Homo sapiens: one gene and its partner. The protein of the gene in region 2 purifies or fractionates together with the protein of the main gene of each other region. This does not show direct contact. Each region holds a gene or a part of one and is shown on either strand. Other genes may lie near its edges.

Evidence for each region. Proteins that work in one complex are often made in the same cells at the same time.
Region 1: the proteins of DZIP3 (region 2) and TIAL1 purify together in Homo sapiens (affinity purification with mass spectrometry; 3 studies listed by BioGRID and IntAct, with this or other methods). This does not show direct contact.

Annotation. Positions count from the first base shown.
Region 1 is NC_000010.11:119,579,379-119,587,597, forward strand, and holds part of TIAL1 (nucleolysin TIAR), read right to left. Parts: intron 3,231-8,219; coding exon of another isoform or gene 3,180-3,230; coding exon 3,081-3,179; intron 2,846-3,080; coding exon 2,791-2,845; intron 2,632-2,790; coding exon 2,544-2,631; intron 1,469-2,543; exon of another isoform or gene 1,095-1,468; coding exon of another isoform or gene 1,093-1,094; intron 633-1,092; coding exon 557-632; intron 1-556. UniProt on the Homo sapiens protein: RNA-binding protein involved in alternative pre-RNA splicing and in cytoplasmic stress granules formation. Shows a preference for uridine-rich RNAs.
Region 2 is NC_000003.12:108,682,814-108,691,032, reverse strand, and holds part of DZIP3 (E3 ubiquitin-protein ligase DZIP3), read right to left. Parts: intron 6,818-8,219; coding exon 6,692-6,817; intron 4,606-6,691; coding exon of another isoform or gene 4,589-4,605; coding exon 4,449-4,588; intron 3,058-4,448; coding exon 2,937-3,057; intron 2,441-2,936; coding exon 2,297-2,440; intron 2,211-2,296; coding exon 2,109-2,210; intron 247-2,108; coding exon 136-246; 3' UTR 130-135; intron 1-129. UniProt on the Homo sapiens protein: E3 Ubiquitin ligase proteins mediate ubiquitination and subsequent proteasomal degradation of target proteins.

The sequences.
Region 1 (8,219 bases), on a different chromosome or scaffold from region 2:
ATTGAAACTGCTTTAAAATCAAAGCCCACTTTATTATTTAATGTTACAGTTAATGCAAATGCTTACTTTGGTACCCCTTTTACAAAGAATATATGCAAAAATCAAGATGAATTGCTTAAATTTTTATTTACATAATTTGTTGTAGTCATTCACATCCCAGTTATATAAGAGTATGAATAATAATTTAAAAGGTAGAGTTAAAACTGAGATTTTCATGGTTAAAACTGAATATAATTTACCTAACCTCTAAATTCTCAGATTAGCTCATCTGTCCTAGACTTGGGCTTTACTTCTAAATCCATCTGACCTTTACCAATGTACAAACACAATTTTAATAATCTTCCTTATAGTATAATCATTCTTTTTCTAGCTATTTATTTTCGAGTTTATGAAAGAGGAATGAAATTATACTCTATTATTAAAACATACATAACATTACATAAAAGTTGTGTTTGTAGTTAACATTCAAGTATATTCAAGTTTCAGATTCAATACATTAAGTAACTAATGACTAAATTTAGTATTAAAAAATATAAATTGAGATGGAAGAACGTACCAGTTTGTTATAAAAAGATACAAAACCATAGCCTTTGGATTTTCCAGTTGCCATGTCTTTAACTACCCGGGCATCCCTGTGAAAAGAAGCACAGCTAAATGAGGGAAGTAAGAGCCACCCTCAAAATAAAAACTAAAAGGAACCACACACACTGTATTGTGAGCATTTTTAAAATAAAATTCCAGTTAGCCCTAATTAACTACAACCATTCCTGAACTCTCCCTAATGCTTCTTTACCTGTTAGAAAAAAGCAGTAGGACAAAAACATGTAATAAACATGCAACCTAATCAAATAGCCTGTGCTTTCTAAACTAAATGCTCAAATTTGAAGATTAATAGGAACAACAGTTTCCCTTTCTAATATTCTATTTACTAGTGTCCTCTAAGGTTTACTGATTCTATAAATTACTGTAACAATACTAACTACTTTACCATGCAATCTCTAAATAGTTAAATGTCTTCTGCCTAGTGATACAAAATATATGAAATATTAAAAAATTGAAAAAGAGGAAAAAATAGGAATTAAAAAGGCATACATGGCCTGTTAACAGATTTCTTTATTTTTCTTGGTCAATTCTCTACCATCATTTTGGAGTTTGGGCAGCTGTAAATTTTGAAAAATTGACATTTTCAGAAATTTAAGAAAGGAGAATAAAAAACTAACAACAATGCTAAGCACACCAGTACGAAAACAACAAATTTACACAGAAATTTTAGTGAGTAAGTTAAATGATTGGAAATATAGAACTCCACTGAATATAGAATGTTAAAATGTAAATACTAAAATATGTATATATAAATAATGTATAATAAGAATAAATAGAAATGAGAAAAAAAATCTACAACTGAGTTCCAGTGTGCACAGTTCCTTGCAGTTAGCCTTCAAGATCCTGTCCATTCTTATGAGCAATTCTGCAAAATAACCAGAATGCTATTACTTTTAATTGTGACTTGGACTTAAGAAAAACTGCAGGTCTCAGGTATAAATAAAGATTGAAAAACAGCAACCTGTATTATTTTTATATTGATTTTTAAAATAGTACTACTTACCACATTTAGATTAAAAAGCAAAGCAAATATCAAAACAGAAAGTTAAGAATTACATCTTTTAAAGAAATTAAATCTATAGAACAACAAATTGTATAGAGAAAATATTGTTGTTCTTAGTTGAAACACTTTCCTGTAAAGTAGTACTAAGATGTTTAATTTAAATCTACAGGAAATATACAAAATAAACTGATTTTAATCAGAAAGATAAATTATGATAAACATTTTCTACAATTCATAACCATTTTTAGTTTTCCAATATATTTTTTACCAAGTAACAACAGTAAAATCTGAGCATAAATTTGTTAAAAATCAAACCACATTTGCCTCTTAACTAGTAGAATCAAATATCACTAACAAAAACATCTAATTAATCCCACATTTATGACTCATACATTGAAACATTTTAATAGTATAATAGTACTTTTCACTTATAGCTAAAATATCAAAAACACATTTATCATAATAAAACATGAACATTTCCAATTTAATCACAATATATCCAAGGATTTACCTACTCTCCCCCATTTATAAATTCCTCCTATAAAAGTTATTGAACTCTTACACAGTATAGATCACATTTACTTTTGATTAACTCATTATCCTAAACCATCAAATTTTGAAAACATATGACAAAAAGCTAGACTTTATAAGTTTTACCATTCAAACATCTGCTTCAAAGATAACAAACAGAATCACTTAAATTTTTTTTAACATATTATACACAGGATTAGATGAAAACGAGACCCCAAGACACTGAAATGACATTAACATTTTCAACAACATCCACTACTCAAAACAAACCAAAATAAATAAATGAAAAATAAGAAACAAAACAAAACCATACTAACTAGAGAAAGAAAATCTTAATTCAATTACAAGTTAATCATATACAATTCTGCCTATCATGACTGAGTGTAGTACTGATTATGATACTTACGATATTTTACCAAAGGGGGCAAATGCTGATTTGATATCTTCTGTTGTAATTTCTGGACTCAAATCCCCAACAAACACATGGAAGTGATCTGAAATCAGAGCATTTGGTAATCAAATACTTAAGAAGTCAGCCACTAAAACCTTTTTAAGGCAACTCTAGAGGAGGAAAAAAAAACCTATTTAAGCTGGTAATGCCTCCTGGATAATTTCAGAACTCTTCCACAGTAAAATGCAGCAGGAGTACTTACTGGAAGTATCTTTTTTCTGGCTACTTGGTGTGGTTGCCCAGTTTACTTTGACCTCCTAAAAATAAAGATTATATTTAATAAAATTATTAGGCATGTCATGAGTTACAACACTTACCACTTATTAAATCATTTATCAAGCAGGGTTATTTTTGTAAAAGCACTAAGCTGAATAAAGCAAAACCATCACTCAGCAGCCGAATATCTGCTCAAAAATTTGCCTAGAAAGAATACAAACTAGTTTGACATGCAAATATATGTACTCATAAGGTGCCATCATCCTATTATCTTACCTTTCCCAAAATTTTTCTCCCATTCATAGCAGCTAATGCAGCAGCTGCATCTCTGTGTTCATAAAATTCCACAAAGCAATATGGGTCATTGCTTGTATGCTGCAAAACAGAAAATCCAACAGAAGAGTTGACCCTTCTGCTATCGGGTTGCTGAGAAGAAAATCCAGGAAAAAACATTACTGATAGCTGGGAATATACAAGGTGAGACTGCATAAGCTTATGAAAGCCTAACACTTTTTAAATAAGATTTAAAGCTAAACCTGACTTTGCACCTCAGAATACTGCTGAACTCAAACGGAACTATAAAAGCAGTTGTAGAATCATGAGCATCAGTATTAAATGAAAATAAAGAATTCTGGTGAAGTGTGTTAAATATAAAATAGAAGATTATATTAAACCAAACAAAACCTCAAACTCAGATCTGATGAGGACCACTCCTTACCACTACTTTCCTTCTCCAATATTATTTTTAAATTACGTTCTACTTATGCATCATAATCCTCTATAAGTGGTATCCCAGGATACAGAAATACAGCAAGAACCAACTTCATAAACTACTGATCAAAATTAGGATCAATACTACAAATGATGGAATTCTATGCTGCTACAAAGACTGAATTTTATTGATTTCTTTTCTGGATATGGAAAGAATGAAAATAAAAACAAGAAAACTTAAGCTTTATAACCAGCTACTGAAATGAATTCCCTACCTTCCAAAATAGTCTAATGTACTGAAGATTCTATATACTTTGAATTTGGTCTTCCAAAGATCAGAGAAATAACAGTGGTGATCAAGAAAAGAGGTTCTGAAAATGTATCTGAATAAAATATTCCAAGACAAAGCTATAAGTTTACATCATAAGAACACCATATAAAAAATCTATATTAAATATATTCTGCAACCCTGTGCTTGACAGTAGTTACCTAAAACACATTTATAAAGATGTGAAGAAAGTAGTACTACCTAAGCTATAGCAACATTCTCACCTGACAACCAAACTAGAAATGAATTTCTATGAAACTGCAACCTGTACTGAATAGCTGCACAACTGTACAAATACATATTTTTATGTAAGGCTAAAAACATTCATCATTATTCAATGTAAAATGCCCTATAAGAATAATATTTAAAATGTGGAATTCTAGTTGGACTTACAAGGGATAAATATACCAGATAAAATAAAGATCTTTTCAACCACAACAGTTTTTCATTCCAGGAAAGTTTTAGAAGAAAAATCCAAAATAAGACGTCTAAACAATAGTGGCAAAGGAACCAGAAGGCATTTCCTTGAGGGAAAAAAAGTGGGATCGTTAATACTGACAACAAAACTATGGGCTCTCATACAAAATCCTACTGTTGTAGCCACGTGAATGCTGTTCTTAAGAGGTAAAGAAAGGAAATGGGGGAAGACTTCAAATGAAAACACACATTTAAATTCTTGTAAAAGAGTTATTACATTTACCATAAATATTCATTGAAGAAAGGACATCAAAATAAATAAGAGGCTAAAATTGTGCTAGTTGAGTTTTCCTTTCACTCCTATCTCTTTTGCCCCAATGGTCTCTAAGGAAAACACTGATAATCACAGCAAAACATACAGGGGTCCAACAGCAGATCTATGATAATCCCATACACTTTAGGAAACTAGTCTACTCGTGAATACCAATTTCAAATCTATCTAATAGTAGGCCAGCTCCCAATCAATGTATGCACGTGCATGTATATATACACATATATTCACTGACATCACATATTTTATATATTCACATCACACTGCATATCATCTAATTTAAGACACCACTTATTTCTAAGTCACATCCCAACTGTCAGATATTAAAATTCTAAAAAAATTTGACTTAGAATCAATAATATATATTTGTATTATATAAGGAAAGCTAGAATCTATGATAACAACATCTAAAGTAAAAAAAAAATCATAAAACTATGGGGGAAAAAGGATTTTTCACATACTGAAATGAAATTTATGAAAGAAAAATAAATAGCTGCTAGATACTCTGCTAGAGTTTATACCCTCTGGAAGCTTCTTATTTACACCACCAAGTGACATCCTAAAAATCAATTATGGGCTGGGTGCAGTGGCTCACACCTGTAATCCCAGCACTTTGGAAGGCTGAGGCAGCTGGATCACTTGAGGTCAGGAGTTCGAGACCAGCCTGACCAACATGGTGAGACCCCCATCTCTACCAAAAATACAAAAAATTAGCTGGGTGTGGTGGCGGGCGCCTGTAATCCCAGCTACTCAGGAGGCTGAGGCAGGAGAATCGTTTGAACCTGGGAGGCAGAGGTTGCAGTGAGCCAAGATCGTGCCACTGCACTCCAGCCCGGGCAACAGAGCCAGACTCTGTCTCAAAAAAAAGTGCTCACGCCTGTAACCCAAGCACTTTGGGAGGGCGAGGTGGGCGGTTCACGAGGTCAGAAGATCAAGACCATCCTGGCTAATATGGTGAAACCTTGTCTCTATTAAAAATACAAAAAATAAAAAAATAAAAAATATTAGCTGGGCATGATGGCACGCACCTGTAGTCCCAGCTACTTGGGAGGCTGAGGCAGGAGAATCACTTGAACCCAGGAGGCCAAGGCTGCAGTGAGCCGAGATCATGCCATTGCACTCCAGCCTGGGCAAAAGAGCAAGATTCCATCTCAAAAAAAAAAAAAAAAAAAAAAAATCAATTATGGCTGGGTGCAGTGTCTCATGCCTATAATCTCAGCACTTTAGGAGGATGAGGCAGAGGCAGGAGGATCACTTGAGCCTAGGAGTTTAGGACCAGCCAGAAGTTCGGGACCATTGGTAACATGGTGAAACCAATCTCTACAAACACATTTAAAAATGAACTAGGTGTGGCGGTGCTGTCCCAGCTACTTGGGAGACTGAGGTGGGAGGATCACTTGAACCCAGGAGGTGGAGGCTGCAGTGAGCCATGATGGCGCCACTGCACTCCAGCCTGGAGGACAGAGTCAGACCCTGTCTCTTAAAAAAAAAAAAAAAAAATCCGTTATGTCCCTACCTTATTTAGCGTTGTCACCAATTTTTGTTGGATGACATAAATGTCAAGACAGAGAAATATGAGACTTTACAAGCTCAAATCTAGGAGTTCTAGAATATGGATGTTATGAAAATTCATTTCGAGTCCCTCTACCCTTCAAATAGCTGTATGTATACATGGGGTTTTAAAAAATAGTTAAAATAAATCTTTACAAATGTTTCTCAAAAATTTTCTAGTGAGTCTTTCCCCACTTTCTCACAACCCGTTCTCTCCTAAACCTACTTCTGTCAGCTTCCAAGCTAACCATGCCACTGAAACTGCATGTTGAGCTCAACAATGACCTCTCTGCTGCTTCTGTGATTCCTTTTCCATCCTAATCTTTACTTCCAAGCAGAATTCACTACAGTTGACCACCATCCTCCTTTAAACATTCTCTTCTGTCTCCTACCACACTCTGGTTTTCCTGTTTCCTCACTGTAGGATCTTTCTTCCCTTACTCAAACTCTAAATGTTGAGCTTGTCCAGGGCTCAGACCTCACGGCCTCTGTGCTCTTCTTTACCATCATTCTCTCTCTGTGAACTCATCTAGTCCCATGGCTTCATGGATTCAAATACCACTGCAAGCTTCAGCACCGGTCTCTCTAGAGTTGCAAACTACTTTATCCAACTGCCTAATCTAACGTCCACTTTGATGTCTAATTCATGTCTTAAATCTAACATCCAAAACACAATTTCTGATTCCCACCACTCCCCATGGTGACATCCATCAGGTCACCCCCACTTTAGCAAATAAATAGCATTACCAACTATACAACTGCATTAACATGAATCTTAGGGTATTTCCTGATTTCTTCCTTTCCCTATGTCCCACAGCCAACCCAGTCCTATCAATTCTACCTCCAAAATATATTCCAAATCTATCAACCTCTGTCCTTATCTTGACTTCGGCTAGCACTTTCGAGAATAAGCCTCCATCATCTCTTACCTAGACTAGTGAAGTAAATCCAGATGGTTTTTCTCCTTCTGCTCTTGCCCGCTACAATCTATTCTCCATAAAACAGTCATTCTCTACATAGAGTAGTAAGCTTAAATATGCAAATCTTGGCACCTCATCCCCCTGCTTAAGCCCCTCCACTGGTCTGCCACAGCAATCAGAGTAAAACCTAAACTATGTCATGGACCATAATGTCCTGTGATTCTGAATCCTGCTGTTAGACTCATTTCCCTTAACTCCCCTCCATCCCTCACCAGACTCTAGCCATCGGTCTTTGATTCCACAAACACAAGTTCATTACCAACTCAAGACTTGTATTTGCTGTTTCCTCTGCCTCCAGCTCTTACCATAGATAGCACCATCTTGTTATTCATCTCAGCTCAAAGAGGTGACATCTCTCATCACCTAGCCTATATAGCACCAACCCTCCAATCATCACAGAACTCTGTTTTATTCTCTTCATGGCTTACATCCCTATTTGCTTGGGAAACTCATTTGGCTGTCTCTCCATTATATCTCCAGTACCTTGTATAGTGCCTAGTGCAAAGGAAATTTTTGATCGATGAAAGCACAAATAAATAATTAAAGGCAGGAAGGAAAAATATAATACACCAGAACAAAATGATGATTGTCATTACTTGGGAAAGACAATCAAAAGGCCAATGCACTTTAAAGGTTTTTAACAGTTCTCCGTTTCAGGATAAAACAAACTCTTTAGCACAGTTTCTAGCCCTTTCCATAAACTCCTGCCATCTCTTACGACTAATTCCATTTTAACTACAACCATGCTACGGGTTCTATTTTTCCCTCTCTGTCTCAAGCACTCCTGCTCTCCCTACCAACCTGGATCAAAGTTCCCTTTATTTGGAATCCCTTCTTCCCTCAATTCCTTTCTAGCCAGTATGTACTACTATCCTTTCAAGGTTTCCGCCTAGGCAGTGAGTCCTCCAAGAAGCCGCTCACTGACCTAAGGCTGCACTGGATACACATTTGCTCCCACAGCACTTTAAGTTGTCTGCTTCTAGAGCATTTATTATCCTACTTCCTAAGTGCCTGCTAACTCCTTTGTCTCCCTACTAAACTGTAAAATTCTCTGGGCCAAGGAACTATCTTTATTCACCAGTGTATCTCTAGCACTT
Region 2 (8,219 bases):
TTGGCTGCTGCTTTGATAAAATTAGCTGGCTTCTTTAGCACTATATTGAAGAGCACATAGTTTTACACCACTCAAACAAGCAGCTCATAATAAAAGAAAACTGAGCTTCCTTTGCATAGACACCCCGACCTTGTATCAGATCTTGGGCAACTGCCGGCTGGGGTGACCAGGGAATTCTTCTGGTAGCAAAACGTGGAGTCTGCACGTTGGACATGTCCCCTGTTGCATCAACCATGGTCTAATGCACTAAGGAGCAAAAAGATTTATGTCAGTCTCTCAGATGTAGCCTAGCAGAGGCAGTTGTCACTCTATGCATCAGGGTTACCAACCAACATGTCTTCTGGTGGATCTTTAAAGCCTTACGCTGTGGATCGTCAAACCAATTGCTGCAACCATGGCACCTTCCCTGTGGTTTGCTAAACAAAATAGGTGGTAACTGCACAATACCTTTTAGCCAGTTTATTCTACTAGAAATGCTTCCTTCAACCTCAATTTTCAAGATGACTAGCAATCCTTCCTGACAAGGAAATTGGAGAAACTTGCTATATTCTTTGGTTTACTATATACTGTTCTCATTTATAATCCAGAAAAAGTCATAACTAATGATACAAAAGTCACTAGTACCTGGTATGAAATGCTTATGGTGTTTGCAGTTAAAATCCCTAGATCATGAATACACTTCTCAGATTGTTTTCTTTGGCGATAATGACAGTAATTTTCGGCTATGAACTATCTGTTAAGTCACTTGCTTGAATGCTGACTCTCCAAAAACAAATCATTTTTACGTATATAAATAATGGAGGGCCAGGTCAGATGAGAGAGGATTAATAATAAGCACTATATATAATAGGCCCACTAACTATAGTCATAAAAAATGACCTGAATGAATTATATGCTTTCTACTTGTGGGCAATGGCAAAGAGTAGGATAAGTTTTGTTAAACATGTATTTCCTAAATTGTCAGAACCTTATAAACTTCAAAGGGGAAAGTCAATGGCTAAGGATCTTTCCTAGAAAACTTTTGGGATTAGGCATTTTGTGGATGTATCTTCATATTAGAGCAAATACAAAATATAATTCTGTACCAGGTACCACATATCATATCTTTGAAATGATGTCTTACAAACATGGCTTGACTGAACTGGCTATTATTTACTTCCCTGAAAAGCCTTTCTTTACTATGACTACCTTTTCCTGTGTCAAATTACATCTCTGCAACAGAGGACTTGGATCATTAATTATATACCAATAGCAACTGTGTGGCAGTAACACCAGAATTTAATCTATATAAATGCCAAGAATCAACAAAAGACATGCCAACCTCATATTTTTCTTTTTCTTTTTTTGAGATGGAGTCTCACTCTATCACCCAGGCTGGAGTGCAGGGGCCCGATCTCGGCTCACTGCAAGCACCACCTCCTGGGTTCACACCATTCTCCTGCCTCAGCCTCCTGAGTAGCTGGGACTACAGGCACCCGCCACCACGCCCGGCTAATTTTGTTTCTGTATTTTTAGTAGAGATGGGGTTTCACAGTGTTAGCCAGGATGGTCTCGATCTCCTGACCTCATGATCCACCCACCTCAGCCTCCTAAAGTGCTGGGATTACAGGTGTGAGCCACCATGCCTCACATTTTTCTAACATCAAAACTCAAGCCTGAGTATCTTTCAAAAGCAAATATAGAAGCCTGAAGAGACTGATAAATCTTATGCTTTATGAAAGGGGGCTGTCATTAATTATGGACAAAGGACACTATGTGGTATTTATAGCATGTCAATTTCAAGTGGTGCTGTTGCTAGTTCTGCCACTAAACTACCACGTCAATCGACATTTGTCCCAGTTCTATTCGAAGGAACTGCCTACTGTGTACCATCTGACTCTCAACATTGTCCCCTTCTTCTGTAGGGTGGATGGAGATCTGAGAGAGCACAATGCAATCCATGGCTATGTATGGGAAAAGCATAAATGTTTCTGTGTGGTACCCAAAAGCTCAGAGTTATATCCAGTGGAACTTGTGAGACAACAATGGATAATGATACATGTATATGATAATAAGTAAGGCAGTATGAATCTCATTTAGCTGATTAATGGGAAAATTTAAAGTGTTACCTGAGCATGGAATTTGTGAGCGCAAGGCAAAACTGAAAGATTTTCTGGAGACAGATTCTCATGACAGATCACACAAGGCTCTTCTTCTTCCTCTTCCTCATCCTAGGGAAAATACAGAAAATGTTAAATTTAGCTCATTGTTTTCTCCCAAATCTAAATGTGTTCAGAATCAAAAATTTCAGTCTCACTGGATTACTGGCTCCTTCCCATGTGGCAGGACCCTGTGAAGTGAGTGGCCTCCAGGCTGGTTTTGGGGGCTGGGCAGCATCAGGCTGTGATGGAGAATGACTAGGTGAAACACAATTAACATTTGACACTGATTTTCCTTGACTCTGAAAATAAGAACATAATGTTTATTTTTTCAGAATTATCCTAAAACAGTAAGAGCTGAAACATTAGTACAGAACGGGGTATAGTAAGAACTAGCAAAAGGGTAAATAATCAGATTTGTGAGAAATCTTGAACAAAATGGTGGCAATACTTATATACTCAGAGCTAGGTAAAAACAAAAATAACTCTATACATTCTTTTAATTAAAATAAATCTTTCAAGAAAATTAGAAAATCTCTCCCTCTTTAGACTCATTCAAAGAAACTAGAGCAAATTTCAAGGAGGTCAGTTTTATTCTAGAATGATTAGGTAACAGGTATTTCAAAAAGACTTCTGATATCATTTGTTAAGTTGAAGTTGTTATTTACTGTTAATAGATGATTTAATATGATTACAAGTTACTGATTTTCTGAACAGGTTATGGAGATATTTAAAACAGTTAACTACTAGAGTTAAGGGCAGAGAGATACAGGTTTTTTGGTTGTTTTTGCATTTTACCTGAGACTTTTTGGGGTCAATAAACTGGGAAATCTTGCAAACAATTTCATCAAATGTCAGTTCAGACAAGGATTTTCCATAAGCATCCTTCAATTTCCGTAAGAAATCTGTAAGTTCCTTTCTGCAAGAGATCAAGGAAAGGAAAGGGCAGTAATGATTTTCCTTAGTACCTTTGAGGATGTACCCACCAAAGGAGATATAAAATCCTATCGCATGATTGATATGTAGCATACAGACAGGACTCTTTAGGTCTTTGATCTAAAAAAGTGATCACAGGTCCATCTGCATTTATCTTAAACCAAAAGGAAAACTCCTAATTGTGTTCATTAATGATACTTAATGTTTTCATGAGTGATAAAGTTTAGTACTTATTTTCTTTCCAAAAAGAGACTTCGTTTTTGAGAGCTCACTAGGTGAAAATTAAGTTTATCCACTTATTTATGCATTGGGTTCTTTATACCATCTCTCAAGTGGTTTCTTGCTCAGGATAACATATTTATTTTTAACTATGTTGCTATTGGTTTCTCTCTTCTTTATCAGTGTTAATAGTTGTACTTTCGTAAAACTCAGAAAACAAAGATTAAACAGAACAGGAAAGCAAGGGTTAAAAATCACATTAATTATATAATGAAAGAACCCACAATTATTTTAATTGATATGTTCCTTTTTAATTCCCAAGATCCATTGATCCAAAGCCTGCATCTACAGTTTTGATGGGACAAAGTAGAATGAAATATTTTTGTTTCCCAAATGAAGTGTCATGTCATCAGCCTTATGCAACTACCTTTGATTTATAATGTTTTTATACATATTTATAACAACTGTACTAGAGTTCTATTTTATTATCTATTCACTATTATGAAATTTATAAAATTATAATTTAATAATGAAGTGTGCCAGTATATATATTAAATGTTTGTATTGAAATAAAAATACTTGTGAAAAGTAGAATTATTTCCTTAGATATGAGTTGAGATAAAAGAAACTTCATTTGTGTAGGAATATAATTAAATATCTTTCTACTAAAGGTAGACTGTGAAAAGCACAGTAAAGTTATGATTTCTTGCATTTTTAGTGTGTTCTCCAACAAAGAAACTATAAGGACCCTCAAAATTAAGGAAATTAGGAAATTAAATCCTAAAGATGTTTGGGCTTATATAGCATACAATCAACTTAAAATTCACTTTGGAGATAGGTTAAGATAATAATGGCAGTTAGTGCCATTAAAATTGGGTAAGTTTACATCTAGTTGTACTTTTAGTAAATGAGCATACCTAAATTTAAAGTTATTCTCTCATGATTTAAGACAAGTAACTTTTTAATGAAGAGGTTCACCATTGAACACTGTCTCTTCTTGGTAAATTTCTTTTTCCTTACCAAGGTCAAGGTAAGGAAACATCTGTACTTTTTTTGTGTTTGTTATGTTTCTCTGAAATGTTTCATTGCCACAATTATGGCTATGAAAACTGGAGAATATGATCTGTACCCACCAATAAATAAAAACTAAGGTACCTGGTTTGCTGTGGAAAGGCAGTTTTCAGCCTGTCTGTAATTCTCTCCCAATTCATGATGGAGGGATCACTCCGCAGACCTGCACTGGGAGGCACAGCGTCTCCCACAGGCGCTGGCAGAGCCCAGGCTATGCCAGTCATCTGTAAGAGGCAGAGAGCTATAGCCCAGCAGGTTTAATTATTAAGAAGTGACATTCCTATACCTCAGAAAATGGGTACAATGAAGAAGCGTACTGGCATACACATTCAATTTTTACAGTTTTTCTCTTAATATTTCTAATTGTTTGTAACTATTTTAAACTTATTTTAAAAATAGGACAAAGAAAAGGGTAGAATGAAGAAGAATACTGGCATACACAATCCCTTTTAGGGTTTTTCTCTTAACTAATACAAACAATATTTCTAACTGTTTATAAATATTTAAACTTATTTTTAAAATAGGACATGCTTGCTTCAGTAATTACATACATGTACAGCAAAACATGAAGGCTGTTTACTGCTGTTTCTCTTTTAACAGTGAAAACTGAAAAAACCTTACATCTATAGAGAAATGAATAAATTATGGCACATCTAATCAAGTTTTTAAAAATAGAACTGTATGTCTGGGCATAAGAGATATGCATGAAATATGATTTTTTAAAAAGTCTGTGGCACAGTATTTATGATACGACTTCCTTTTACATTAAAAAATTTTAAATGCATATGTATACACGGAGAAAGGTCTGTAAATTACAATGCGTAAGAAGTGATTATTTCTTAGGGATCAATTGCACAGTAACTTTGTTTTCTAATGTGCTTACATTTCTATATTATTCGCATTTTGTGATTAGCATATATACCTTTATAACGAGAAAGTAAAGTTACATTTTTCAAACAACCAAATAAAGATGGGAATACTACTAGAACTGCTCTGCCCAATGTCTCATCAATGTTGTAGACAAAAGTGGTGCAGAAGTTGTAGTGACATGCAGCCATGAAACCATCACTTTTCTCCATATTTTATGGTAGTTCCTTCTTAAGATTCTAATTAAATAATATAATAACAGAGTATTTTTGGAGTGCTCATCTGATTACTAAGATAATTATGACCACTTGCACCTTTTATGTAAGGCTCTAATGGGTTATTTTCAAATATTAGGTTATTATTCATGAAAAACTAGCAACTACTAACAGTCACTGTAATAATTTGTACAGAGCCTAAGAAGTGAGGGGAAGCAGAATATTTCCCAGAAATCTGAATTTGCTTCTATGTCAAGCTTTACCCCAGGAATCAGAAAGTAATCTTATTAGGAGATTAAGGTATTTTAATGTTTTTAATAAAATTTTATCATAGTTTCTTATAGAATGGTGGGCAAGCAAATTGCAAGAGTTAACACTGTAATATCATGGTAGTAAAAAGATGTGTTACTTATTTAACATATTAAGGACTATATACAGATTTGTTTATAGACAGGTAGCCTCGACAATAATAAGCAGAGTCCACCTGACCATGTATTTCAAAAGGAAACTGTTAGCAATATATGGGGAGCAGAAAAGAAAAGAAACAATTAATTGCACCTAATTATACTTATAGGAAAATCAAGATTAGAGAATTTTCATTAATTACATCTAACATCATTCTTTTGGAAGATTTTCCTTTAATAAAAAACCTTCACCAAGATTACAACTGATAATTCTGGTAATTTCAAATTTATATGTTCCTTCTTCAGGTTTGGATAAAGTTTATCTGGCTATTTGTAGCTGGGAAGATTTATAACTTTACAGTTTATGTTTCAAGGTGATGCTATTTATAGTCTGTTTATAGATACACTTGAAATACTGTCCTACTATGTGTGTGTACGTGTGTGGAAATAAAATTTTTCTTTAGCTTTGTGCCATAATATAGTTTGTTGTGACTTGGCTTCTTTGCTTTTCAATCTTCCCAACAACCATGCCAAAAAAATCTATTAAAAATGTCAATTTACCCTGCATTGTTGCCTATTTCAGAAGCAATACTATAATTTTAAGGATTCTCTAGTATAAAAACATATTTATCTTTGTATCCCAAAACGAAGCTAGTATCAGTTAAATAATATATGTAACACCCTGAGCACAGTGCTTCACAGGAAGTATTCATTCAATTATCACCACCACCCCCATCATTATCATATCAAATGAATGAACAAAATGAAGATACTCATTCAGGAAGCCCACTAGAGTAATAAAAAAACTAATTAACATCTATTCCACCAAGAAAGCTTTTACCAGGGGGGCTCTAGGTTGGCCAGTTGCAGAGACGACTCCCGGGCAAACTGCAGGCATTTGAGGAACAGTAAGTATGGGTCTAAAGAAAGATTCTTTCACAAGAGGTCTTCCTAAGAACTGCTGCATCTAAAATAGAAAATATAAACAATAATAAACAACACCCCCCCCCACATATTTATATATTTATTTAGGCAATCATCTAAATTCATACAGCAATATGGCGGGGGGAACACTCATTTGAACTCAAGATACAAAGCACATTAGAAACAATGTATGTCAGAAAATGAAACATATGAATATTGGAAAAACAAAGGGCAATGAGATATATTGAAAACAGCATTGACAAAGACAGAAAAGAAATAGCTTCTAGTCACATTTCTCTCTACGTAGCTGAATAACCTTGGAAACCAATTTCCTAATCTATAAAATGAGAGGGTTGGATAAGGTAATCATTAAGGTTCCCTCCCAACTGTAATCACATAGAACTATGCAAAGGAGATTCTCAGGAAGTGTTATCTATGTTGGTGGGCAATATTGATACTCAGAAATTTCACAGAACAACCCAAAGTTATCCATAGAAAATATTTTATATTGGAGGTAATACTTGATGAAATTTTGACTTAATGTTTAGCTCCAAGGAGAGCTGGAGGAGGAAGTGGGATGGGCCTGGGAGATAAACTCTGCTATAGTGATTTGCAGATATGCTTGTGGGTATTACCGTACTTCCCAGGGGGTTATGGAAATCTAGACCTTCTTAGCAGCTATCTGTGGAAAAGATACCTTGCTGGCTGGAGCAGAGAAGGGGGCAGATTTATTGGATATGTAGTACATGCCAGCCCTACTACTGGCATTAAGCATAAAGCAGGAGTTCAATAACAATTTGTTACTGAACTTAAAAAATGAGGAACAGCAACATAGCTCTAAGTAATGATCCTAAAAATATCATGTGAAAAATTAATGGGGAACTTTACAATGGATAGACTGGACTGGCATTTGAGTTTTAACATCTTAAAAGAACATTATGTGATTGCTAGGTAAGAAAAAGAGATTTTTTAAACAACTGGGAAACAAAAATTCTAACTGGATATTAAAAATTATAATTTTCTTAGGTAAGACAATGGTGTTATGATTATATCCAGTAAGAGTTCCTCATCTTTTAGGATATATCCTAAAGCATAAATGGATAAATTGGATGATATCTGGGGTTTGCTTTAAAATATTCCAGTGGAGAGGAAAAAGGGAATGACATAAAACAAGGCTGACAATATATTGATAATGCTGAGGCTGGCTCCTGGGTTTGAAGAGGTTGATTATACTATTTTTTACATATGTGTCAAATTTTTTACATGTAAAGTCTTAAAAAAATGAATGAATGGTGGGTACTGAGTCAACAGTCCTGCTCTGTTTGAGAACCACTATTACCTAACACTTTATTTTTATTTTCAATGGACACATAATTGTACATTTTTATGGGGTACAATGTGAGGTTTTCATACATGTATACATGTATGGTGTAACGATCAAAGGG